Homo sapiens: one gene and its partners. The protein of the gene in region 4 purifies or fractionates together with the protein of the main gene of each other region. This does not show direct contact. Each region holds a gene or a part of one and is shown on either strand. Other genes may lie near its edges. The genes, in order: TSPAN3, PRXL2A, ARVCF, TACR1, TMEM164, HACD2 and ADIPOR1.

Region 1 (3,500 bases), on a different chromosome or scaffold from region 4:
AAACATTGTTTTAAAACTCTCTTCCTCTGGCTTCCAAGAGGCCCCACTGCTGGTTTTCTTCCTACTTCCCCAGGTGCTCACTTTTTCATTCTCTTCACGGACTCTGAGATGTTAGTGATCTCCAGGATTCTGTCTTCGGCCTTATTCTTTAGTCATTCTCTGGGCTCTCCGTGGGCTACAGCAGCTATGGCTTCATTAGTCATTGTAGCTCACTACCTGAGCTATCATCTCAGAACTACACATTTCCATCTGCAAGTTCCAGAGACATGTCATCCTCAACCTGTCTCAAACCCTTTCTGCCTTCCTGCCCAGCCCATCTAATCTTCCCTTACATTCCTATCATAGCAAAAGGTACCAGACATCTAATTTTTCTGGTCAAACATCTGAGGATTAACTTTCCTTGCCCCACCTCTATAACCCATAAATCACAAAACTTCAACTTTACTTCCAAAACATTATTCGAATACCTCAACTCCTCTTCAACCCCACTGCAGTGCTTCTGTCTTAATTTGGGCCTTATCTTATCCCCCTAAATCTTACTTATTGACTCTCCCTGCATCTTAATACATTCTTTATACTACCAGGGTTATATTTATTAAAAATACAAACCAGATCAAGCCATAGCCTTACTTAAAATCAGGATGAGGCAAGTGAGTCCCCGATGAACCAAGCTATTCCTCCTTTTCAGCCCCAGATCTCATTACCCCTTGTGAACTATGAACAATATAGAACTGTTATACCCAAATGGACCACATATTCTCTCACTTCTTTGCCTCCGCTGTTCTCTCTAGAATGCTCTCTTCAAATGCCTGGGAACTCCTTGTCGCTCATTAAGATGAAGCTTAAATGTTACCTCTTCCTTTTGGAAGCCATTCTTGACCATTTCAGGCTGGATTAGCTGCCCTTGGTGGACACAAACATCTCCCAGTGCATGGTTCTAACAGAATATTTATCGAAACGGTTGCAATTATAGCTATACCTGTCTCAACACACCTTGAGAGCACGAATTGTACCCATCTGTCCTTCACCCTTGTATCATCTAGAACAGTACTTGGCAGACAGCAGGTATCAGTTAAAGTTTATTGAGTACACCTCATCTCACCCCTTTCCCTTGAAATCACCCTCCCAACTCTATCATAAGCTTTGGTTTGTATTTGCGTTGGTTTGTATTTGTATTTGGTTTGTATCTGGTTTCTCTTCAGTTCAATGCTTATAGCTTTTAGTTCACTATTCAATTATTTGGCAACTGAATCCAGCTTGCTGAATTCTGATGGCCATTACATCTGGAATATGTTAATATATCGTAAATATGTCATAAATATAAACACTGTACTTACAGCAAACTGCCTGTTCAAAGGTTCTCAGAGTTCACTGACATATTTGCTTTTGGGGCATGGTACTAGAGAATGAAGGTGAGCACAAAAGTGGGGGGGAGTGGAGAAGAGAAATAGTTTAATTTATCTTAATTTTATTTTATTTTATTTATTTTTTGAGACGGAGTCTCACTCAGTCGCCCAGGCTGGAGTGCAGTGGCGCAATCTCAGCTCACTGCAGGCTCCGTCTCCCAGGTTCACGCCATTCTCCTGCCTCAGCCTCCCGAGTAGCTGGGATTACAGGCGCCCGCCACTACACCTGGCTAATTTTTTGTATTTTTAGTGGAGACGGGGTTTCACCGTGTTAGCCAGGATGGTCTCGATGTCCTGACCTCGTGATCCGCCCGCCTCGGCCTCCCAAAGTGCTGGGATTACAGGCGTGAGCCATTGCGCCTGGCCAGACATAGCTTAATTTTAATTTGGGTGCATTTATTACAGAAGTATGTCAACTACTTAACACTCTTCCCAAATACCCCTTTTTATTGACTACTTGTGTGATATATATTCACACACATGTACACACACACATTTTGCTAAAGTAAATAGTATCAGTCCTCACGCTAAATTAGAAGCAATCTGAAGTGCAAATTAATCAAATTTTGTCATTTGTTTTTATTAGACGTTTCTCTATCCTTTAATGTTGTAGGTTTTTTTTACTCTAAAAGGCAGTATTTATTTCTTAAAAGGCTTGAGTTAAAATGAATTCCATTTCTGAGCTTTCGGTACACCTACTGAAACTTCACTAGCTTTAGCCTATGTAAATTCGAATGAAAATAAGAGAAAACTGGAGGCCATATGTACTTAACAATCAACCTGAAGCACAGTTCACTGAAGAACTACTTGCATTTTAGATATAAATTGATGAGTTTTCAATCTAAAGAGGTTCCTATGAGACTCACACTTAGTGCTGCTTGGAGGTGGGCCAAGGGAAATGTTTCCTCTGCTGCCACTGCCTCTCCCCCCTAAAAGAGGCACTCATCTGAAACTGAGACTACAAGAAAGCAGAAAAACCAGCAACAGAGACAACCAGATGCACAACAAATGCAATGGAGGGCTGTGGGGAGATGCCATTTGTAAAGCTGCCTCTTCTTTTCTGATAGACTCTACAACAGTTTTTTTTCCCAGGCTGCAGTCAACATCCAAGTCACACAACAAGATGAGAACATAACAAAGCTCTATTTGGCAACATATAGTTAAAGGAACTTACTAGTTGCACACACCAAAGAGAAAACTGCACGGATTGCTGATATGAAACTATACACATCAAATTGCTTATAAATAGACGATGTGTTTCCTAAATTGAAAACAGCTTCAAATTTTGCTTTTACTGAAATCTGTATATGGTGCTTATATCTTAAGCTGTATAATAAACAATTATGAAATGACACTGGTTACTTTGAAAATATAGAAGAGGTATCCCAGTAGCAGCTGAAGACCTAAAAACAGCCAAAAGTAATTGTTGTAATGATATCCAACCATCAATATGAAAAACACCCAAAAGAACATGGGAAACAGTATAGTAAATGGAAGAGAGGTTCTAAGAAATTCCTAACTAGTATGCATAGGGACTTTGTCATCCCTCAGATTTTTAATGCAGAAATTGTGGCTATCAGAAAAGCTATATAAAAGGTGAGCTTAAATTCTTCTTTTGAAGGGCCATGATGGGATTGAGATCTATCAAAGGATCTGAGCTTTGCCAATAAAGCAGCTGCAAAGGAGGGGGCTGGGGAGGAGGGAGGTGCAACAGAAAAGGAGATGAAATGTAGAACTTGGAAGCAGCTGAACTGCTTTAGTCACCACTGAGAAAATCTGAGCCTGTAAGGAGGATTTGTGCCAGGACAGTGTACTAAAAATATTCATCCTTTTTACAAAGAAGTGAAAGGAAATTTAGGCAAAAGGCTGAGGTCTGAAATTACAGAAAGAATAATTTTTAAAAAACCATTATTCTTTATCTTTTAATAAGCCTATACTCTAAATTAAGTCACAACATTTTAAAACTTTAGGAGAGCCAGTGCTTTTCCACTAAGCTGTCTAAAAAATAAAGCCATCTTGTTATAAAATTTTGCAAGTATATGAGTTCCAAAAGTATGATACTTCATTTTATGCTTTTACCCTTCCTCTACATAT
Region 2 (3,500 bases), on a different chromosome or scaffold from region 4:
ACTGAAAAAGTCTCAAATTTTTAACCTAAATATGTTACCTGCAATATTATTAACGAAGGAGAGGATAGAAGATGCCTAGGAATAAAATGCTTTGGGGTAGTACAGTACTGTAGTTCAACAAGCCCAGCTCTAAGGTCCAACTGAATCTGAATCTAGCTGTGTAACTCTGGGCAAGTTATTTTTGCTCTTTGAACCTCAGCTTCCTCATTTGTAAAATGCAAATATCTAGTAGCTCCACTTTGGGCCACAGGGCATATTGAAAGATGAATATAAAAGTGCTCACCACAATGTCTGGTAATATAGAGTTGGTGAGGGCTCAATAAATATGAGCCCTTAATTATTTTAGTATTTCCCAGAGGGATCCATGTTCCCGTAGATGTTATGTGGAAAAAAAAAAAATGGGGTCAGGTGGGTGAGAGGGTGGGGAGAAGAGTCTGTAATCAAATAAGATTGGGAAACCCTGGGTTGAACAAAGCTTAACAGGTCTCTCTCTCTCCTAGTATCTTACTAAGGTGACCTACTATAAACCTGCACAATCTCCTGCCTTCCTTTCGCAAGCTTCCTTACTTACTAAACAGATGACGATGACTTCCACCTGGGGGGCTAACATGGTGACCACGCCATCAATGAGACCTTCACCACTCCAACTCTCTTGCCACACCACTGGCATGACTGAAATCCCACCAAGCTACAGCTCTAACACTGAGAGCACACAGCAAGGAGGCAGAGCTAACACATTTGGGTGTGTGGCTCTAAGCTGTCCACAATGGATTCTAGCAGTCCCCCAGAAGAGGGAGATAGGCAGGTCTGCTCTAACGGGTGACCTTGAAGTGATTCCTCAGACACCACAGCTTCTTCACAGGGAGGGGCTGGCCATGCCTGAATCAGCAGCAATCCAGACACCTCATTCTAATAAGCATATGTCTGTGCTGAGCATCAGGAGCATGGAATTGGATAAAAGGTGTCTCCCATACTTGTTCACTCAGGAACTCCTTTTAGTTTGACGATCCCACAAGCCTGGAATTCCTCAGAATACACTCTGGAAGCACTGGTTTAGTAAAAGATTGTAATTATTACTAAATATTATGGAGCAATTTATCATTATAATTACAGAGACAACAACAGAGAATGAGAAATGCTTTTGATAAGAAAAGCTAAAATGTAAAACAGCACCTAAGCCAAGCACAACTACGTAATATGTACACATGGAAAGGAATATGCCAAAATCAAAATTACTGTGTTAGGGTAACAGAATTATTCCTAGTTTAAAAATTGTTATTAAATTTTTCCTAATGTTGTTATATTATCTTTTCAATTAAAAAAAGGAGAGAGTTTAGAAAGAAAGCAGTAAGCCTGTATCCCAGCTCCTTGGAAAAGTACTGAGACCTGAAGGGTCACCACTTACCCTTCTCCAGTGTTTTCAGGTCTATATCCTCCAGGTACTCCAGGGCCGCTTTCTGGGGCTTGGACAGAAACACGTCTGTGTTGGCAAGCAGCAATGCCAAGGCAGCAGCCCCCAGGGCTCCTGCACCAATGGACCACATCCCCATGGTGAAGAAACTTGGGTCCTGGAGGAAAGACATTTCTGGAGATTGAGAAGAAGGAAGAAGGCGTTACTGCTCCCACAGGGTAGCTGGAATTTCATCTTCCAGGCAAGGCTCTGGCAGGACAGCCAACCAGGAGGTCAGGACAGGGGAAGGGAGCAGCAGTGTCACAGGCGAGACTGGACAAGGGCTGCTAAGCACCTGCTGCCACCAGAACTTGGGGATGCAGCACACACATGGAGGTTCCTGCACCGTGGAGCTCACCAGGGCATCAGGAGTGATGACAGAGAAAGGACAGCCTTCTCAAATGGTTCTCTTGCTGCTCTCTCTTCTCATGCCCCAAGTTGCAGCCCCTAGCTCTGTGGAGCTGTGCCGAGCTATGTCCCCTGTAGGCAGACTACTTCCTCATTCCCCTCCTCATCAATGCCTGATTCTCCCTCACAATCCAGGTGGCTCAGGATCATGTCCCTGGGTAGGGGCAGCTTTCTCTTCTGTGATCAGAGGATACTTAGAACACCAACCGCACTGTTTTGTTCCCCTATCTTCTTTCCTCTTTAGTTTGACGACCCTCCAAAAACAGGGACCATATCCTACTCATCAAGCCCCCAGCCAGTGCCCAGCAGGGCCTCATTCATTATAGGCAGGCAGTAATTTCTCCCAATTGAGAAGAGCTTTATTTCTCCCTTATATAAAAACAAAATATGCTTATAGTAAAAAACAAAACAGAGAATACATGAAACCATAGTCGATAAGAAAGCAAATACTCTCTGAAGCTACCACCTACTGATGGCCACTGTTAAACACTGGTGTTTAGTAATCTGACTTTTTTCTCCTGTGAACAGAACTACACAGATGTCTGCCAAACAAATGCAGGTGTTATATCAGAAAGAGGAGGTCCTGGCAGGGCGCGGTGGCTCATGCCTGTAATCCCAGCACTTTGGGAGGCCGAGGTGGGCGGATCACCTGAGGTCGGGAGTTCGAGACCAGCCTGACTAACATGAAGAAACCTCATCTCTACTAAAAATACAAAATTAGCCGGGCGTGGTGGTGCGTGCCTGTAATCCCAGCTTCTCGGGGGTGCTGAGGCAGGAGAATCGCTTGAACCTGGGAGGCGGAGGTTGCGGTGAGCCGAGATCGTGCCATTGCACTTCAGCCTGGGCAACAAGAGTGAAACTCCGTCTCAAAAAAAAAAAAGAAAAAAAAAAAAAGAAAGAGGAAGTCCTGGCAGGGCACGGTGGGTCATGCCTGTAATCCCAGCACTTTGGGAGGCCGAGGCAGGTGAATCACGAGGTCAAGAGATGGAGACCATCCTGGCCAACACAGTGAAACCCTGTCTCTACTAAAAATACAAAAATTAGCTGGGCATGGTGGCGCATGCCTATAATCCCAGCTATTTGGGAGGCTGAGGGAGGAGAATCGCCTGAACCCGGGAGGCGGAGGTTGCAGTGAGCTGAGATTGTGCCACTGCATTCCAGTCTGGTCATAGAGCAAGACTCAGTCTCAAAAAAAAAGAAAGAAAAGAAAAGAAAGAGGAGGTCCTATGGCATCTGCAGAGGAGGCTGGGCAAAAGACAGCTGCATAAGATAAAGGTCTCTGCAACTGAAATGGAGCTCCAGGCGGGTTCTGTCAGAATTCAGCCTTGTTCCTGGCTTCTTCTGCCAGCTAGGAAGACTTGTGCCTGTGGGTGGGAGCTCCTGGAAGCAGCCCACAAAGTACCCCCACCTCCAGCCTTCCTTCTCCCAACAACCACTTACAATATCTATCTTTCCATTTGGTCCTCACGCCATCCTAAGCTCTGGCATACACTGGTGCCTTCTTCCCTAAGTACCAGCCTGCTTCTGTGTGCTTAGATCACCGGGAATAGGCCTGGGAGTGGGTGTGGTAATTGTGTGGCCCACCTCACCCCAGCCCATCGAACCTCTGACTCAAGTCTCCCTTGCAGGACTTGGCCGGGAG
Region 3 (3,500 bases), on a different chromosome or scaffold from region 4:
GCCAGGCGGGCATGCTCACATCCAGGTTCAGAGGCTGGGCCAGACGAACACCTGCAGGGACAGGGCAGTGCCTATTGGGCTGTATGCTGGGATCTGGCTTGAGAGAGAGGTCTGTCCTGGTGGGGCCTAGCCAGTTGGAAGAGCCTGCATGTCACCAGGGTGGAGGGCTCCAGCCGCAGGAGGGCTGTGGGGGAGTATTACAGGCAGAGCAGGGCTGATGCAGATACCCCAGCGGGGAGTGTGCTTGGAGTGTGTTGGAGCAGAAAGCCCAGCAGGGCAGGAGTAGAGGGAGCATGGGGCATGAGGACTGGCGAGGGTGTGATGAAATGTCACTGGGTGGGTACAGGGGAGATCGAGGTAGTACCCAAGCCAGGCTGAAGCCCCAGTTTGGAGACAGGCAAGCTTGGAAGGCTGTTTTGACCCCTCATTTCTGGAGCACTGGGCAGAGCAGCAGGACGGCGCCTCAGTTGCCCGGGAACTTGGAGTGGTTGCCAGGAAGAGTGCCTCCTGTTGCTAGGGCAGCTGCCCTGGTTGCACTGCATCAGTTGACTTACAGAGGGTGGGCTCTATTGTCAGTGGGGGAGGGTGGGCCCTGTTGCTAGGGGGCGTAGCTCTCTGCACAGCTTCAGTTACTGGTGAAAGCAGGTCCTCTTGCTAGGGGTGTGGCCTTGGTTATACAACTCTCAGTTACTGGCCAATGCTGGTCTTGTTGCCAGGGAGGGTGGGCCCTATTACCAGGGGCGTGGCCAGGATGCATAGCTTCAGGGACCTACCGGGAAATGCGGGTCTTGTTGCTAGGAGAGCGTTCCTGGTTGACACCTCCCTCCCCACCCCAGGCCTCCTGGATGCTCCTGCTGCCAGGCAGGTCCAACTGATTTGAGCCTCAGTTTGTTCCTCTGTGAAATGGGAACGCTTTTCCCCTTGGGTGACTATATGTTGATAGTAAATATTACGTGACTCATCCACACCCATCCCTGGCCCCAGCTCACCCACGCCCTGGGAGCTCTGAAGCGGGAAGCGGGAGGGGTATGATGGATGAGAGCAGATTCTGGGTGACCGTGGGTGGCGGTTGCCCTGCACCTAGGCTTTGAGCTGCTGTACCAGCCCGAGGTGGTACGTCTCTACCTCTCCCTCCTCACGGAGAGCCGGAACTTCAACACCCTGGAGGCTGCCGCCGGCGCTCTGCAGAACCTCAGTGCCGGCAACTGGATGGTGAGGGACCAGGTCGGGCAGGGTGGGCAAGTCCTGAGAGAGGGAATCCCAGGCACCTCACTGGTGCAGCTCCTGCCTCGGCTGGCGGGGAAAGGAGGGGCCACACCACCACCCCAGGATCCAAGAGGTGTATGGGCTGCGGGCAATGCGTGCACCCTGGACGGTGGGAAAACCTCGGTGGAGGTGCCGTTGAGCTTTTGGGGTAGGGCTTTGTCGGGCACGGGAGCAGGAAGGTCCAGCTGGAGAGAGCGGTCAGCGTCTGGAGGTGGGAGAGTGCCTGGCATGTATGTCTGAGCAACCCTCTCCCCGCCTCCGCAGTGGGCCACGTACATCCGCGCCACAGTGCGCAAAGAGCGCGGGCTGCCGGTGCTTGTGGAACTGCTGCAGTCTGAGACCGACAAGGTGGTGCGCGCCGTCGCCATCGCTCTGCGCAACCTCTCGCTGGACCGGCGCAACAAAGACCTCATCGGTGAGGACGCCTGCAAAGCCCACGCCTGGGCACCGAACTGTGCCTGCAGCTTTGGGGTCCCATCGGAGGGGCTTGGAGGATGAGTGGTTTGGGAGTCCAGGCCCCGGCCCTCTCGCTTGGGCGCTGTCCCAACTGGAGGTAGCTCCAGTCCCCCCGGCCCTGTCTCTGAAGCTCAGCGCCCTGCTCACAGGGGCTCCTGTGACCGCCTGCACACAGGCGGTCTCCAGGGGCTCTCCTGGCAGTGCCCCTCGCCCTCGCGGGATCCCTGCTCCTTCCTGGAGAGGTGGGGCAGAGGTGTGTTCTGACACCTAGTCCTGCCCCTCAGGGAGCTACGCCATGGCTGAGCTTGTGCGGAATGTGCGCAATGCACAGGCTCCGCCGCGACCGGGGGCCTGCCTGGAGGAAGACACCGTGGTGGCGGTGCTCAACACCATCCACGAAATCGTGTCCGACAGCCTGGATAACGCGCGCTCGCTCCTGCAGGCACGCGGGGTGCCAGCGTTGGTGGCTCTCGTGGCCTCCAGGTGTGGAGGGGCGGGGTCGGTGGCTTGGGGAGCCGCGGAGGTGGGGGAGGGGCCACCACTGACCCCGCCCCCGGCCCCACAGCCAATCGGTACGCGAAGCGAAGGCGGCGTCACACGTGCTGCAGACAGTGTGGAGCTACAAGGAGCTGCGTGGTACCTTGCAGAAAGATGGTTGGACCAAGGCGCGCTTCCAGGTGCGGCTTCCCTGGCCTTCCTTCCATTCCCTGCTCACTTTGCCTTATTCCCACTCCATGTGCTTCACCCACCCTGTGTCTGTGTTTTATGTCTCAGTCAGCTGCTGCTACTGCCAAGGGGCCTAAGGGAGCACTGAGTCCTGGGGGCTTCGATGACAGCACGCTGCCACTGGTGGACAAGAGCCTTGGTGAGTGGTGGAGCTTAGGGAGCCTAGAGGGTGGCGACCCCAGCTGCCCCAGTTGCCTGACCCTTGGGTGAAGGTGAAGGAGGAGTCAGGCCTCCCACTGAGACGGCTTCCATAGGCCACTTTCCCTGCCCTCTGCCTCTTGGCTACTCCCTTCCCACAGCATCCGCGCTGTTGTCAAGCTGGGGTGAGGCTGCCAGCTGGCAGAGGTTGGGCACCTTAGTGACAGAGAGCCTCTAGGGCTACCTGGGCCAGCCCTGTGTGGGCTTCTCTGCCCCGATCCCCCCTGGCTGCCACATGCAGCCCGTCTCCTCCTCCTGCCTTGCAGAGGGCGAGAAAACTGGCAGCCGGGATGTGATCCCCATGGATGCGCTGGGCCCAGGTGAGTGCAGATGCAGTGTGGTTGGTTTTCTGTGCCGGGAGGGGACCAAGGCCTGAAGTGGGCCTGCTGGTTTTATGGGGTGTAGATGGTGCTGGGTGGAGGAGAGATATTTGGTTTAGGGGTGCTTAGAGGGTGAGGTACAGGGCAGCTAGAGAGGGATTAGTGCTCAGCCAGGGGCTCTGACCCACAAGTGGAGGGGAGTCTGGAGAGTTGGCAGGGTGTTGGTGAGAGCTGGCACCAGCCTGGATCTCCAGGACAGGGTGGGTGGGGGCTGTCTCCCAAAGCCCCTGTCCCACGAGTCCCCTGTGTCTGGGCTGAGAGGGAGATCTGCTCCTACAGGGCCTCCCTCAGAGCGCCCCTCATGCCCCACCTTACCCCATCTACAGACGGATACTCCACGGTGGACCGGAGGGAGCGGAGGCCACGGGGCGCCAGCTCTGCAGGAGAGGCCTCTGAGAAGGAACCCTTGAAAGTAAGTGGTCATGTGGCTGTGGGCAGGTCCCCGGTGAGGCCCCGTGTCTAGGGGTTGCTGGA
Region 4 (3,500 bases):
TCTGATATATTAGAGAATTTGACTTACAAGATTTGCAATTTTAAGTGTAACACCTAGGAGGATTTAATGAATTAATTTTGTAGTCAATGTTTGGATGCTCAGGAGAACCTGAATTTATCAGTTTAATTCTCAGCAGGTTGAAATGCTTTAAGAGAATTTGTGTGCTAAATTTAGAAGTTTTGATTTATTAGTCTTACAAGAACTAAGTAAGTCCTGAGAAAGATTTTGTTTCTTCTATTTGTAAGTCTTCCTGTTAGGGATTTGAAGATTTTAACAAAGCCAGATGTATCAAATTTGTGAGTATAGTTTGAAATGCTTAGAGGAATTTAATTAATCAAGTTTATAAATACTGTTTACATTTTGAAAGATTATTTGATTTGTTAAGCTTATAAAAATTGTGACTAATAAAAATATGTAAGATTGATTTGATTAAGTTTGAAAATGGTATTCAAATACTTAGTTGGAAGTATTCTATCTCATGTTTAAAGATTTATTGAGCTTTAGTCAAAGAACAAAGGCAAATGAATGTTTCATACTTTAATGCACACAAACTAGATATATAAGAAAACTTCCATGATTTATAAAATATGTTCAAAGGCTAAAAAACACTGTAACTTCAACAAATTGAATATCAATTAAAACTCACGCAGCTATAAGAGCTTTTTGCAATGAACACATTCTCATTCAGATATTAAACAATGATGCTCACTCCATATAAGGGTGGTGACTTTGTGACATAAAGGATTGGAAATGAATGCTTAGGGGATGGTGTAAAAGAAAACATTTGGGTTTTCTGGACCATGATATACAATATCCAAATGATGGACTACTGGTAGACTGTGTGTACATTTCCAAAGATGGAAAGAATGTTGAAAAGCATTTAGCAAGAGATTTGCTGACCCAGTCAGGACAGTTTTAAACTACCATCTTTAGGGGGAAGAACATAAATGTTTTACCCTGTAGCTATTGTACTTGATGTAGAAGGAATCCAGGAGGAGGCTGAGACAAGAATGGACACGTATAATGGATATGATTGTGTGTCAGAGTTTACTAGAGGGCATAATATTAATTACTATTAATTGGTATTTTAGTGGTATTTAGTGGATGTCAGACTTTTCAAATCTTTCCCTCTCTTCTTACCTTCTACAAGGTAAGTTTCATTATAACCATTTTATCAGTTGAGGAAACTGGGGGCCCAGATAGGTTAAATACCTTGCATATGTACACATAGCTACTAAGTGGTAGAACCAGCACTGGAACCCATCGCCTGGGCTCTTTCCTAACCATTCTACTGCCAAAGGCTAGGAGTAAGTTTATTAAAGGGTGCGCTCATACAAAAGACATGAAAGGCACTCAACAGGGAATCCCAAATATTAAACATAGTGATAAAGCTGAATTGGAAAGTAGATTAAGAACTATACAAGAGAAGGGCAGGGGATTAGGCCCAGGGCTGCTTAGACAAATTAATTTCCTTGAGCAGTTCATATGTAGCATTAAAACTCATGCTGATTCGTATGTCTCCAGGTCATCATAAAGCACCTCTTCATCTTTGGTGCTCCTCATCCAGAGAGCTTCATATTTCCCCTTCCACTGAGGTGGAATTGAAGTCTCTCAAGGTGGCAAGAGAGAAGTTTGGTGCAATGTAAGCCAGTTCCCCAGTCAGTCTCACATACGTGGGACTTCACATGCACCACTTCATGCTGGAATTTTCCTGTGTCTATCGTATTTTTATATGGTGTGAACAATGCAGGAGTTGGAGGGCTGGGTGGAGAGTAGGTTTCTCCTGGTTTCACCTCAGCAAGGACAAGTAAAGGAGAGAGTGCACCTGCTGCTAGTGGGGGGTGTTAGAGAAAAATCCAGGGGGTTGACAGCAGTTAGGCCAGAGAAGGGTCCATAAGATGGAGGAGGTGCTTATCATTTTCATCTCTCTGAGTTTCTGGTATGCTTGGGTAGACGGGAGGTAAGATGGTAATGATAAGCACCTCCTCCAATCGGAAGTCTTTTCCTGGGGCACAATACCTGTTGAGGGTGGCAAGGTGTGGGTCAGGTATCCTGTGGGGCTCAGTCAACTGGAGTGTGGAAGAAGTAAGTGTGAGTTAGAAACCATGGTTATTCTAGAACGGGGGTTCTGAATCAAAAGCATTCTATTTTGTAACAAACCTTTATGGTAGGGAGAAATTTGGCCCAGTTTTTCTTTTGCATCAAGGCACAGCATCGTAAGTGTGCTATACGGTCTGCTTGAGGCATCGGGTCTGGTTTTTAGATTTTGGCTGATGTGTGCAGAAGAGAAGCATGGTCAGTTTGCTCATGACGCACACATTTTAATGAGTACCTACTCTGTGCCAGGCACTTGGATAGGTTCTGGGAACAGGAAACAAAATAAGGGATCCCTGTTTTCATGGAGCTTGCAATCTAGTAAGCAGGGAGGTGTGGGAGAGATAGACAAGGTACAGACAGTTGCAACACCACGGGATAAATGCTGTGGAAATATAAGGACCCCTCAGCTAGACTTGCAGGTCTAGGACAGCATCTTAGTATAAGCACTGAGCTAAGTCAAAGAGGACAGCAAGGTCACTAGGGAGGATGCCAGTCCTAGGTGTCTAGGTGATGCTAGACAGAGTGATGGTAGTAAGGTAACTCTGTTCTGGTCATCTCCTTTTAAGAGGGCCATTAACAAATGGAAATAACCAGTAGAGACTAATGATGATGATGTAAAGTTGGAGGAACCAGGGACAGTTAACCAGAGCTGGGGATGCTTCAAGATAAATAGAAGCTTAATACCTTATCCTTATACTTACTGGAAAGCCTGCTACGTGGAAGAGGCCTGAGACAAGTAGGAATAGTCCAAAACCAAAGAGGCAAATTTCATTTCAAGAAAAGGAAGAATTCTGTGATGATTTAATAATTTATTGAATTTAACAAATGGGAAAAATAGAGTAGAATATTTAAGCAGAGTTTGGTACTCTTACAATGGCCCTGTTTGGAAAGTTGAGGGGTTGAACTTTTATTTGGGTGGAAAATTGTCAAAAAGGCCTCTAGTATTTTCTCTTGTGTGATAGGACTCTTACATTGCTTTTCTGCCTCCAATGACAGTTTTCCTTAAATGAGGTATCATCCAAAAGCCACCAAGTGCAGGAGCATGTAGGCAGATGTCTAAGGCACATAAAAGCAAATTGCATGGGTCTTCAAGCTGTGAGGGGGTGGAGAGTGGGAGGACAATGCTAAAAGAAATTGTTTCTAATCGCTCTTCCAGGTTGAAACAGAATCCTCATTGGCATGATGAAGATTAAATGAGACAATGGACTGGAGGGAACATAAATAAAAGATATCATTATCAATTTTATTAACATAAAACTTCCTTTCTAGTTTCCAAATGATGGATATTAATAAATTATTATGAGTATTCCCAATCCAGTGTTCTTGAAGTTAATTAAAACACAAAACTCCACATTCATTTCCCTGTGCCTTGCTGCCTCTCTTCCTCTTTGTCGTTTCCTCCT
Region 5 (3,500 bases), on a different chromosome or scaffold from region 4:
CTTGGAGAATGGGGGCATGGTTTATAGGATGTTGTGGGTATCACTCTGAGTGGGAACTCAGAGTGGGGAATGCTGAAGAATGAAAGGGACCTGGAACCCCCACCCCAAGCAATTAGGGTTGACATCATATCCTAGACTATTATTTTCCCAAATCAGTCTTTCACTGATTCATCCATTCATTCAACAGTTATGAGGCACCTTGTGTATTCCAAGTCCTGTGCAAAGCTTTGAGGACAGGAAGATAAAGAAGGCAGGTTCCCTGCAACTGCAGACTCACAGTCAACAACTACAACACAGGGTAGCTGGTGGGATGACTGAGGTCTGCGCCACCTGTTATGGGAAAACAAAACTCAGCCAGGGGCACAAGGAATGCTTCTTGGTACAGCAAGTACTGGTGCAAAGCCCAGAAGGACAAATAGGACTTAAGGAGGGGCCTAGGAATTCCAAAGCACAAGCTTGCATGGAGACAGACAAGAGTGGGGCAATTCAGAGAACTATGGATAAGGGTTCCATGGGGCCACAGGGGAGAGTGTAACGGGGCAGTTAGCAGGTACTAGCCTCAGAGGTTCGCAGGGCTGGTCTGCTCCAGGCTGCGACACATAGGACACTAGAAGCCATGCTGAGGGCTTTGGGCTTCATCCCATGCACCAGGGTCATGAACTCAAATGCCCCAACTCTCAGGCAGATAATTGGAAGCAGGGGTGCGACCAGGGCCTAAGAGACACTAGGGGATGCTGGAGACTGTCAAACTGAAAAGCCCACACCCCTTCTAAAGAGGGCAACCACCACTCAGCTCCATCCAATCATTGCCCTGAAGGGATGTGCACCCAGAGTTACCAGTTCTTTTCACTTTTGCAAGAGAAGCCAATATATATGAACTTTTATGTGAAATTTCCTGATTTTCCAATGTTGGCGACTAATTCAAAATGTTTTAAGAACATTTTGGACCAAGCAAAACATGTCTTCTGAATGGATTTCAGCCCATGGGTGGCCAGCTTTGAGCTCTGCTGTAGAGTCACAGAAAGCAGAAGTTTTGAAGCAGTAAGGTGAGGTGATCACGTGTGTCTGCAAAGGATCACCCTGGCTGGTGTGCAGGGGATGGACTCAAGCAGACAGAGTCGAGGCAGGGAGGCTGGTAAGAAGATTGCTACAGGAGCCCAAAAAGAGAACAGGATGAATGGCCTTGGAAGGCAACAGCAGTGAGGCTGGAGGAGAGTGGGGGGAAAATCACCATGATGTGGAAGAAGATTGGAGAAGATTGTTGGGGAGATGGGGGTTGGTAAGGGAGAGGAAGGATCTTGGAAAACTCCCAGTGTTCTGGCTGGGGTATCACTGGGTTGATGGTGCCATTTATTGCCATGGAGAAGAGAGGAAAAGGCAGATTGGGACAGAAGGGAAATGATGAGGCCAAGTTTAGACATGAAATTGAGGTGTATGTGGAATATCCAAGTGGAAATGGGTCTTTGGCGGCTGCCTGTACTCTAGGACATATAGTGTGATGGATAAGAGCATGGGCAGTGGAGCTCAACAGGTAGAGGTTTGCAAATCCTGGCCCCATCACTTATCAACTTTGGGGCCTTGGGAAAGTCTCAGCATCTCTTGAACTCGGTTCTACTCACCTATAAAATGGGGTGGCACTGCCTAATTCACAATGTTGTTGGAGAGATGAGATGAGATAATATACCGTAATTACAGTATTGTATCTGGGATTTAGCAAATGCTGATTATTTTCATTGTTATATGAGTCACAAACTCAGTGGAGAGGATGGGGGCGAGCATGGAGATGTAGGTGTCATCAGCACACAGTGGTAACTGAAGTCATGGGAACATACGTAGAAAGAGAGAAGGAAAAGGCCAGAGGCAGAATGCCAAGGAAAACCATGTAAGGAGAGCATGTGGGCGAGAAGAGAAAGGAGACTTTCTTCAGTGACTAAAGTGGGGACCAGGGCTGGGGGCTCTTCTGTGGAAGAAGCTCAGGCTTGCTTTAGGCTCATGGCACATCTGAGTCAGAAGGCCCTTGCAGACATAGATATCATTCCCTCCATTTTATAGATGGAGAAATTCCAGGCTAGAAGATGGGCAATGTCACAGCCAAAGTCATAAGAGCGGAGCACTGGAGAAATGAACTCTCACGCACTGCCAGGGGACTCACTAGGGAGCTCAACGCTCCTGTTGCCACTTGTGAAGGCCTCCAGCACACAAGTTGGATTGTCTCTTCCCTTGTCTGTCCAACCCTCTAGACCAAGTGCATCTCAGGGTCAAGGACCATGTCAGGCCACTTCTGCATTCCTAGCATCTAGCACAGTGCTTGGTGCGTGAAAATGCACAGAGCTATGCCCTTAAGGCATGCACACATTCCTGTCTGCTGAATGAGTGTGGACTGGGCACCGTGTTGTCACCCTGGCTGCGGTGGGCATACAGGGGAAGAGGAGGCCTGGAGGACAGACAAGGGCTTAGGCTGCCACTCCTCCCACTGCTGGAGCCCCCAGTCCTGTTGTCCCGGGTGCCCCCTCCCTCCATCCTCTCTGCTCGGCGCCCCCTAGTGGCAGATGGGCAGCAGTGACTGAGCCAACAGGCGGTGGCAGGAAAGCCCGTGGGTGTTGGTGGGGGGTGTCCTCAGCCAGGAGGCAGCTCTGCAGCCAGCCCTGTTATCATGCTCCTCCCGTCTTGCCCCATGCTGCAGAGGGAAAGGAACACTCAGAGATACTACCAGGGGACACTGTTTCTCAGTGCTCTCACTGCCCCTTGCCCAAACCCCGACTTTAGTAGCATTCATTCTGTGCTGCATCATCCATCCCATACCAGACTGTTAGTTCTCTGAGAGAGGGGCTGTTTCTGAATTACCTCTTCACGTCCAGCACCTGGTACACAGTGGGCACTCCAAAAGTAATCACTGCTTGGGTGAATGAATGGTATAGACTTTCTGGAGAATCATAAAATTATAACTCTTTGCCTCAAAAATACTACTTTGCGGACCACCATCAAATACCTAAAAACTCCAACAAACCACCCTAATTTGCGCAAAGATATTTACACCTGCACTATCTATAATACTGAGAAACTGGAAACAAACCAAGTGGGGAGATAGTTACATAAACTATGGTACCTCAACATTGTGCAACAGAGTCCACTACCATTCAAATGACAGCCAAACTATGTATCTGTCTATGGCTGGTAATGGCAAGGACAAAAGACAAAACACCAGGCAGTACACAAATGGCAGAAAATACAGCTTAGTAGTTTAAAAACAAAGGCCTTGGGGCCATGTAGCCTTGGGTTTGAATCATGGCTCTGCCACTACCCATAGGAGTGACCTTGGGCAAATTGTGCTGCCCCTCTAAGCCTGTTTTCCTGCTGGTGGGCTGAGGGTAACATCTACCTCTAAGGGCTGGTGAGTGGAAAAAGAGAGATAAAAGTATATACGACAGCTATCCTGGCATGCAGATGGCTGCTGCTATTTTTTATCATGGCGACCACAACCATCCAAAATCTTATAAAAG
Region 6 (3,500 bases), on a different chromosome or scaffold from region 4:
AGCCATGGTACTCAGCCAGGCTTCCTTTTGTACCTTGCTACTACATGCTCCTTTGTACTTGCTTGGTAAATGTTTTTATGTCTTTTAAAAAGCAAAGTGTTATTATTTTCTTAAGAAGATGTGAAATTGGAGAACAAGTAATTTCGATTTCCTTTTTAAGTAAACTCCCACAGAACCTAATAAAGAATAACATTTAGCATAAAGAGATATAAATGAGTAGCTGCCTTCCCTGGATTCATTTTCTCCTCCTGTAAACAGGATATATGTCAACACTAATAATTCCCATCAGGATAACTTATGTGTAATTAAACAATACCACACACATCTAATTATTACACAGTGTAGATGGGGTAGGCAATGAAAAACTCCTCAACCACAGAAATTGTGGTTTTAGCAAGCCTGCTCTATCGCCCAGTCCAAGGGATTACTTCCATCACTGACCTTTGCAACGTTAATTGCCTGCATGTTCCTGGGAGTCTTCACTTCCTTATGCACAGACATTTTCCCAAAATCAAATCCAGGATTTGTCACTTAATTGGTTCTTAGTGGGGATAACAGAGATAAAACCAAAAATCCAAGATATTTTCCTAAATCCCTATTAAAAATTCTATAAGGATAAACAGGCTAATCCTTCAAAGTCTAAGACTTGGTTCCTGAGTGGATTTTAAAGTATGACACTGTTTAATGTCCCTACCTTCCATAAGATATACTTAAATTTTAAAAATTATACTTCTAACATTACCAAGTTTTTTTTTTTTTGAGACAAGGTCTCACTCTGTCATCCAGGCTGGATTGCAGTGATGCAATCATAGTTCGCTGCAGCCTCAAACTCCTGGGTTCAAGCTCAAGCCTCCCATTTCAGCCTCCCAAGTAGCTGGGACTACAGGTACCCACCACCCAGCCCAGCTAAAAAAAAAAAAATTTTTTTTTTGTAGAGATGAGGTCTTGCTATGTTGCTCAAGCTGGTCTCGAACTCTTGCCCTCAAGTGATCCTCCTGCCTTGGCCTCCCAAAGCTCTGGGATTGCTGGGACTATAAGCATGAGCCACTGTGCTCAGCTCTAATATTATGATGTCTTAAAGAGATAGAAACCCCTTTAAATTATTGAAGTATTCCAAATGGGGACAACCCCCTACTATATCAAGTACTGGAAGTCTGATGGTCTTGACTCCAAATTTGCTTCTCTGTAGCTTGTGGGAACTGTACTGGCCAAGGTTCTGAAAGAGAAAGTACTACTTATTTACTAGTGTCCGCTTCCAAAAAAAGTTCAAGCCTCTAAGTTTAAAAAATGGTTCACATTAGGATTTGTTAAAATTTCCTCACACTCAAATTTAGGGTAGTAAGGGACTTTAGAAATCTACTTTAACCTAATTATTTACAAATGAAAAGGAGGTGGATACGAGAGAAAAGACTTGCCCAAATCTATAGAGTCAGTTGGGAAAACTATTATACTTAAAATAAAAAGGTACTCAGGCTTCCAGCTGGAAGCTCATTTCATCATACCACCTACTTAAAATGCCTAAGTTTGGACACTATTGAAATTCCTCTGTGTTGCAGTGAGCCGAGATCCCACCACTGCACTCCTGCCTGGGCAACAGAGTAAGGCCCTGTGTCAAAAAAAAAAAAGAAAAAAGAAAGAAAGAAAAAAAGAAATTCCTCTGCCTTCTAAGAGAAAAAAACAAAAGCAAAATGGATAACTTTCTGATCTAGAACGTGAGAGTGAATCCAGCCTGGGAAACACAGCCAAACCTCACCTCTACCAAAAATATAAAAATGAGCCAGGCACGGTAGTGCACGCCTGTGGTCCCAGCTACTTGGGAGGATGAGGTGGGAGGATGGCTGGGGCCTGGGAAGTCAAGGCTGCAGTGAGCAGTGATCACACCACTGCACTTCAGCCTGGGTGACAGAGTGACCCTCTCTCAAAAAAATAAATAAATAAAGTGAGAGTGGGCTGGGTGCAGTGGTTCACGCCTGTAATCTCAGTGCTTTGGGAGGCTGAGATGGGAAGATTGCTTGAGCCAAGGAGTTTGAGACCAGCCTGGGCAACACAGGGAGACCCTGTCTCTATGAAGTTTTAAAAATTATCCATGTATGGTGGTGCAAGCCTGTGGGCCCAGCTACTCTGCAAGCTGAGGTGGGAGGACTGCTTGGTCCCAGGAGTTCAAGGCTGCAGTGAGCCACGGCCATGATGGCACCACTGCACTCCAGCCTGGGCGACAGAACAAGACCCTGTCTCAAGAAAAAAAAAAAAATTGAGAATGAAAGGTAGAGGTATCACACTTCATTTCATGAGATAAAGAATTTTTTTTTTTTTTTTTTTTGAGACAGAGTCTCGTTCTGTTGCCCAGGCTGGAGTACAGTGGCGTGATCTCAGCTCACTGCAACCTTGCCTCCCAGTAGCTGGGACCACACGCCCGTGCCACCACACCCGGCTAATTTTTGTATTTTTAGTAGAGACGGGGTTTCACTGTGTTAGCCAGGACGGTCTCAATCTCCTGACCTCGTGATCCACCCGCCTCGGCCTCCCAGAGTGCTGGGATTACAGGCGTGAGCCACCGTGCCCAGCGAGATAAATGATTTTTTCTTAAGTATCATTCCATAGTTCAGGTTTTAAAAGTTGCCAGTAAAGTATAAATGTTATGATGGTCTTGCCTGGAGGCTAAGCAAAATGAACCAGATCTTCCCTGCAATCTGAAGGTTTTTCACCATAATGAAATATACGAACTATGGCGGCTATTGATTTTGTGTGCCCAAAGCTATCCCCATCCCTCTTTTCCATAAGCAAAGTCTATAGTCCCTTGGACAGAAGAATGGGCATGTGTCCTAAGATTGGCTAATCAAGCACCTCACATCACTGGCATAGTCTAAGTAGGGCCAACCAGAATCCTCTCTGGGAACTGTGTGACACAGATGCTGCGAAAAATAAACACCCTCCCTGTTTCCCACCATGTGGAGAGCCCAAGACCAACATTCAAAGAGAAACAGACAAGCAGAAATGAGAGAAAGCAAGAGAATCTGGCAGTGTCAGCTCCTTGGTTCTCATTCCTGAGCTAGTTTCTTTGTAAATTAATCCTGTATCTGTATCAACTACAGAGGCCAGAAAATTCCTTTTTTGCTTAAAATAGTTTGAATTGGGTTTTTGTCCCTTGCAATTCCAAAATCCTAATCTATACTTACCCCAAGAGAGAGGGCTGGATATACATTGCCCTTAATGCAGGGAAATCAATACATTTTTGTTAAATTTTTAAAATTTGGACGCCTCTAGACAGGCTCTCTATTATGTCTTCTATCTATCACTTCCAATATCCTACACCCACCAACTTCACTATTTCTATTACATAAACCCTGAAAGCATCTGATTTTGCCAGTGCTTCCCCAGGATGTCCCTAGAATTTTTAAAAATCCTAATATAAGCTTGCTTCAGTTGATTTCCCAAAAAAGTCGAATATAAAATACATTCAAGGTAACCTAAGTTAAATGAGATTCTACCCAATCTAGAAC
Region 7 (3,500 bases), on a different chromosome or scaffold from region 4:
CACATTGAGGCTACAGTGAGCTGAGATCACACCACTGCACTCCAGCCTGAATGACAGAGCAAGACCCTTTTAAAAAAAAAAAAAGACTTCTGTTGGGGAAGAGCTACAAAGGAAGTCAGACTGTTTTTCCACTTCAGAGTCTGGGACGCTTGGCATCGAGTAGGAGAGCTGAGGCCCTATATACTGTAGTTCGGTGATTTCAAACATGTGCCTTTGCTTTGATTCATATTTCTCCAACAAAGCTGTGAAATTATCCTGCCTAAGAGACAGTAGATAGGGGAAAAATGGCTGTATTCTTTATCTATACTGCTAGACTGGTCTTGCTTTAGGACAAGAATCAAGCTAGGTATGGATAGAGGCTACCCATAGACTCTCTAAAGGCCCAGGAACTAAACTCTTAGAAACTTTGTGTCTTTGCCTCCAGGAAAGGTGTGCCGTAGCCTGGAAAACTTGGGAATTGGTTCACAATATAAATGTCTCCAAAAACTATAAGTGAAATAACTCTCCAGCTAACTGGCTGGTGATTAAAAATCAATCTTTTCCCCATGTTTGGCACAGGATTATCTTATTTATAGGAGTACAAACAACCTCCCTGCTCCACAGCTTTACTCTCTAATATCCTAGGTTTACCCAGTTGGAAAGCTTAGTGGTAAAGGTTTATTAGCTTGAGTTGAAGAAATCTCATCAAAAATGCACTCAGTCGAGTTTGGCTCAAATATAATTTGCAGTATTGGGTGTGGCAAGCTTGAGGGGAAAGGCATTTCCTCTAAAATACGTAAGGACATAGAAAGCTGGCAGAAGGTTGGCTCACCTAGGATCGTTCTAACACCTTAGGGGTTTGTTCTGATTTTACACCATAGACTAAAACACACTTGTAATTCTCCATTGTTTGTGAGTGATCCACCCCATAGAAGTGGTATTTTCAGATCCTAGTATTATTTGCTCTTCTTTCTTGCCAGACGTCCGATCCCTATCTCTCCCTTTCCTGTCTCTGTGTTACTACAGTTTAGAAGACCAAACTGGACAATGGACTTTGCTCACTATGATGACATGATCTCCATTGACCTCCATTGTATGTACTTTAATGCATGATGATATATTTTGTATGATGAGTTGTAGCTGATGGCTGGTTTGTGAGTTAACTGGGGTCTCAGGTTTTGGTGACTCTGGGTCTAGAAGATGTAGAGAGGTGGTATAGGAGCTAGTGATAGAGGAGCTAGAGGGAATCGGAAGAACTAATAGTAAATGATTTGGACTGAAAAAGGAAAAGACTTTGATGATAGCCAGAAGACTTGAGGGCATAAAAACTTTTCAGATCAAATGATGAAATTAGTAAGAATGCCAATCTGGATTCTGCACATGATCTTTGGACCCTAATTGCCCAACTTAAATTTTCTCTATATTATTCTCATTGCCTCTAGTAAAATAGTTACATAGCACTCAAAGTTACTAAATTTAGTGTGTGACCATTCTAGTTGAGGGGTTCTCTCCCTCCACTGCCCTCCTGGAGCAATCAAATTGTATCACTTATTTTTGTGCATATCACAAACTACCTATGTTATCTGGCTCTTTGAAAACAATACTATAACTTGTTCAACTTGTATTTTGCACAGTGTCTTGTATTTTGCACAGTGTCTTAGAATGCCTTAGGGTGCTAGTCCTAAATACACTTGCTAAATATTCAATGAATGTGTTGACTTACTCTGGGGAAAGGGATAAGAGAAGCCACCACAAGCACAAGAAAATGCACATAAGCCCTTATCTAAGTGGCTAGAAGCTAAGTCATATGCTGGCAAGCTGGAATCTGCCCCATTCATTCATTCATTTTGAAATGGGTTCTAACTAAAATAAAGTATATTTATTATTTTATGATCCATGTATTGCATCTCAGAACCAGAATTTTGTTTTGTTTTGTTTTGTTTCTGCCCTGGTAGCCTGATCTAAGTTACTTCCAACAGTAACTTAGTAAGTAACAAGCTAAGTGTGCCCCTCTTTTCAGATTTATCTAAGATGCCCAAAAATATTTATGTTTTTTGCTTGTGATATAAAGTTGTTTTTTGGTTTTTTTTTTTTTGCTTGCGATATAAAGTATTTTTTAGTAAAGCTGCTGATTCAGTAGTACTTCACTTTGAGGAAATATGTTTTGAGGTCAGCCTATTGAGAAAGATTTCCTTGTGTCCCTCTCACACGGGTTGCCCATCCTCGAGGTTTTCATAGGCTTCCAGCTTCCTGTTCTCCTTAGCTCAATTGTTCACTATGACTGTGTGCTGGCATCTCGTCAGAGTCTTGCACATTTAAAGGAAGAGGAACTGTCTATGTGTTGACACCATATAAAGGTCTGCTGTATAGCAAGTTATTGTTTTTGTCTCTCTTGGACTAGATTGCCGGTTGCTTTCAACTGTGCTTGTGGGTTGAGCATAGCATGACTCATGACTGTTTAGAAGCTTGAGGATTGCCCTTACCTGATGTGTTAGTAAGTGTTCTCCAGAAAGCACCAATAGGATACATACATATGGATAGAGATGGGATTTATTCGGGGAATTGGCTCATGAGATTATGGAGGCTAAGTCCCACACTATGCCATCTCAAGCTAGACAATGAGGAAAGTCCATAACTGGTTCAGTTTAAGGCTGAAGGCCTGAGAACCCAAGGGGCTATTGGTGCACGTCCCGGAATCCCAAGGCAGGAGAACCTGGAGTTTCTGATGTCCAAGGGCAGGAAAAGAAGGGTGTCCCAGCTCCAGGAGGGAAGGAGGGGGAGAGACAGAGAGAGTTAGGGAGTCAGAGAAAGAGATTTATAATCCCTGAGAAGGAATTGTGATTACTCTTAGATAAAAAAGAACTGACACAAGATATCAAAGATATTTGTATATAGTGAATAGCCATGGATGATATAGTGTCTCCCTCAGGAGCAAAGTTATGTTTACTGCCCAATATAAAAGATTGGGGCTCCCTAAGCTTAAGTTTCCTCTCCCGGAATGCAACCCACTCCATGTGCAGTTGTTACCTGGCCCTCCCTGCATTGCAATGTGGTTATTTGGGTTTGGGTGGGGCTTGGGTAACCAATGCAAGAAAATGCTAATATTCTGGCTACTGCTATTGCTATAACTAATAAAGTCCTTTGTATGGGGGTAGAGGTGGGGAGAGAACTAATAATTTACAGCATAGTGGAAATCTTTGGAAACTTTCTCCCTCTTTCCCTCTTTTTTTATTTGCATTTCCCTGAGGCCTGTTTAAAGACTACTGTGAAAATCCAACCCAGGAAAACCTAAAGTGTCTGAGATTTTTCCTAGAAAATGGAATTCTGGGTTTTTCTGATTTTGTGTGTGCCTGTCTCTAGTTTCTGAAATACTCATTTGAGTAGGGCTTAGATTATGGGTTGTGGTGGTTGAAACAAGTTATTGTGGAGCTGGTTATTAGGTATGTGTGTGGCAAAGGGTAAATTGGGGCTGCCTCCTTGTCTTCACCTTCCTGCTTCCAGGTAAGTTCTTGCTTGCTTGC

The links.
Region 1: the proteins of TACR1 (region 4) and TSPAN3 purify together in Homo sapiens (affinity purification with mass spectrometry; 2 studies listed by BioGRID and IntAct, with this or other methods). This does not show direct contact.
Region 2: the proteins of TACR1 (region 4) and PRXL2A purify together in Homo sapiens (affinity purification with mass spectrometry; 2 studies listed by BioGRID and IntAct, with this or other methods). This does not show direct contact.
Region 3: the proteins of TACR1 (region 4) and ARVCF purify together in Homo sapiens (affinity purification with mass spectrometry; 2 studies listed by BioGRID and IntAct, with this or other methods). This does not show direct contact.
Region 5: the proteins of TACR1 (region 4) and TMEM164 purify together in Homo sapiens (affinity purification with mass spectrometry; 2 studies listed by BioGRID and IntAct, with this or other methods). This does not show direct contact.
Region 6: the proteins of TACR1 (region 4) and HACD2 purify together in Homo sapiens (affinity purification with mass spectrometry; 2 studies listed by BioGRID and IntAct, with this or other methods). This does not show direct contact.
Region 7: the proteins of TACR1 (region 4) and ADIPOR1 purify together in Homo sapiens (affinity purification with mass spectrometry; 2 studies listed by BioGRID and IntAct, with this or other methods). This does not show direct contact.

What each region holds. Positions count from the first base shown.
Region 1 is NC_000015.10:77,057,610-77,061,109, forward strand, and holds part of TSPAN3 (tetraspanin-3), read right to left. Parts: intron 1-3,500. UniProt on the Homo sapiens protein: Regulates the proliferation and migration of oligodendrocytes, a process essential for normal myelination and repair.
Region 2 is NC_000010.11:80,418,551-80,422,050, reverse strand, and holds part of PRXL2A (peroxiredoxin-like 2A isoform 1 precursor), read right to left. Parts: intron 2,052-3,500; exon of another isoform or gene 1,586-2,051; 5' UTR 1,584-1,585; coding exon 1,406-1,583; intron 1-1,405. UniProt on the Homo sapiens protein: Involved in redox regulation of the cell. Acts as an antioxidant. Inhibits TNFSF11-induced NFKB1 and JUN activation and osteoclast differentiation. May affect bone resorption and help to maintain bone mass.
Region 3 is NC_000022.11:19,971,824-19,975,323, reverse strand, and holds part of ARVCF (splicing regulator ARVCF), read left to right. Parts: intron 1-1,084; coding exon 1,085-1,212; intron 1,213-1,530; coding exon 1,531-1,681; intron 1,682-2,006; coding exon 2,007-2,205; intron 2,206-2,287; coding exon 2,288-2,399; intron 2,400-2,496; coding exon 2,497-2,587; intron 2,588-2,912; coding exon 2,913-2,966; intron 2,967-3,352; coding exon 3,353-3,438; intron 3,439-3,500. UniProt on the Homo sapiens protein: Contributes to the regulation of alternative splicing of pre-mRNAs.
Region 4 is NC_000002.12:75,189,521-75,193,020, forward strand, and holds part of TACR1 (substance-P receptor), read right to left. Parts: intron 425-3,500; exon of another isoform or gene 1-424. UniProt on the Homo sapiens protein: This is a receptor for the tachykinin neuropeptide substance P. It is probably associated with G proteins that activate a phosphatidylinositol-calcium second messenger system.
Region 5 is NC_000023.11:110,167,114-110,170,613, reverse strand, and holds part of TMEM164 (transmembrane protein 164), read right to left. Parts: intron 1-3,500.
Region 6 is NC_000003.12:123,578,554-123,582,053, forward strand, and holds part of HACD2 (very-long-chain (3R)-3-hydroxyacyl-CoA dehydratase 2), read right to left. Parts: intron 1,217-3,500; coding exon of another isoform or gene 1,148-1,216; intron 1-1,147. UniProt on the Homo sapiens protein: Catalyzes the third of the very long-chain fatty acids (VLCFA) elongation four-step cycle (condensation, reduction, dehydration, and reduction).
Region 7 is NC_000001.11:202,951,813-202,955,312, reverse strand, and holds part of ADIPOR1 (adiponectin receptor protein 1), read left to right. Parts: intron 1-1,005; exon of another isoform or gene 1,006-1,072; intron 1,073-3,500. UniProt on the Homo sapiens protein: Receptor for ADIPOQ, an essential hormone secreted by adipocytes that regulates glucose and lipid metabolism. Required for normal glucose and fat homeostasis and for maintaining a normal body weight.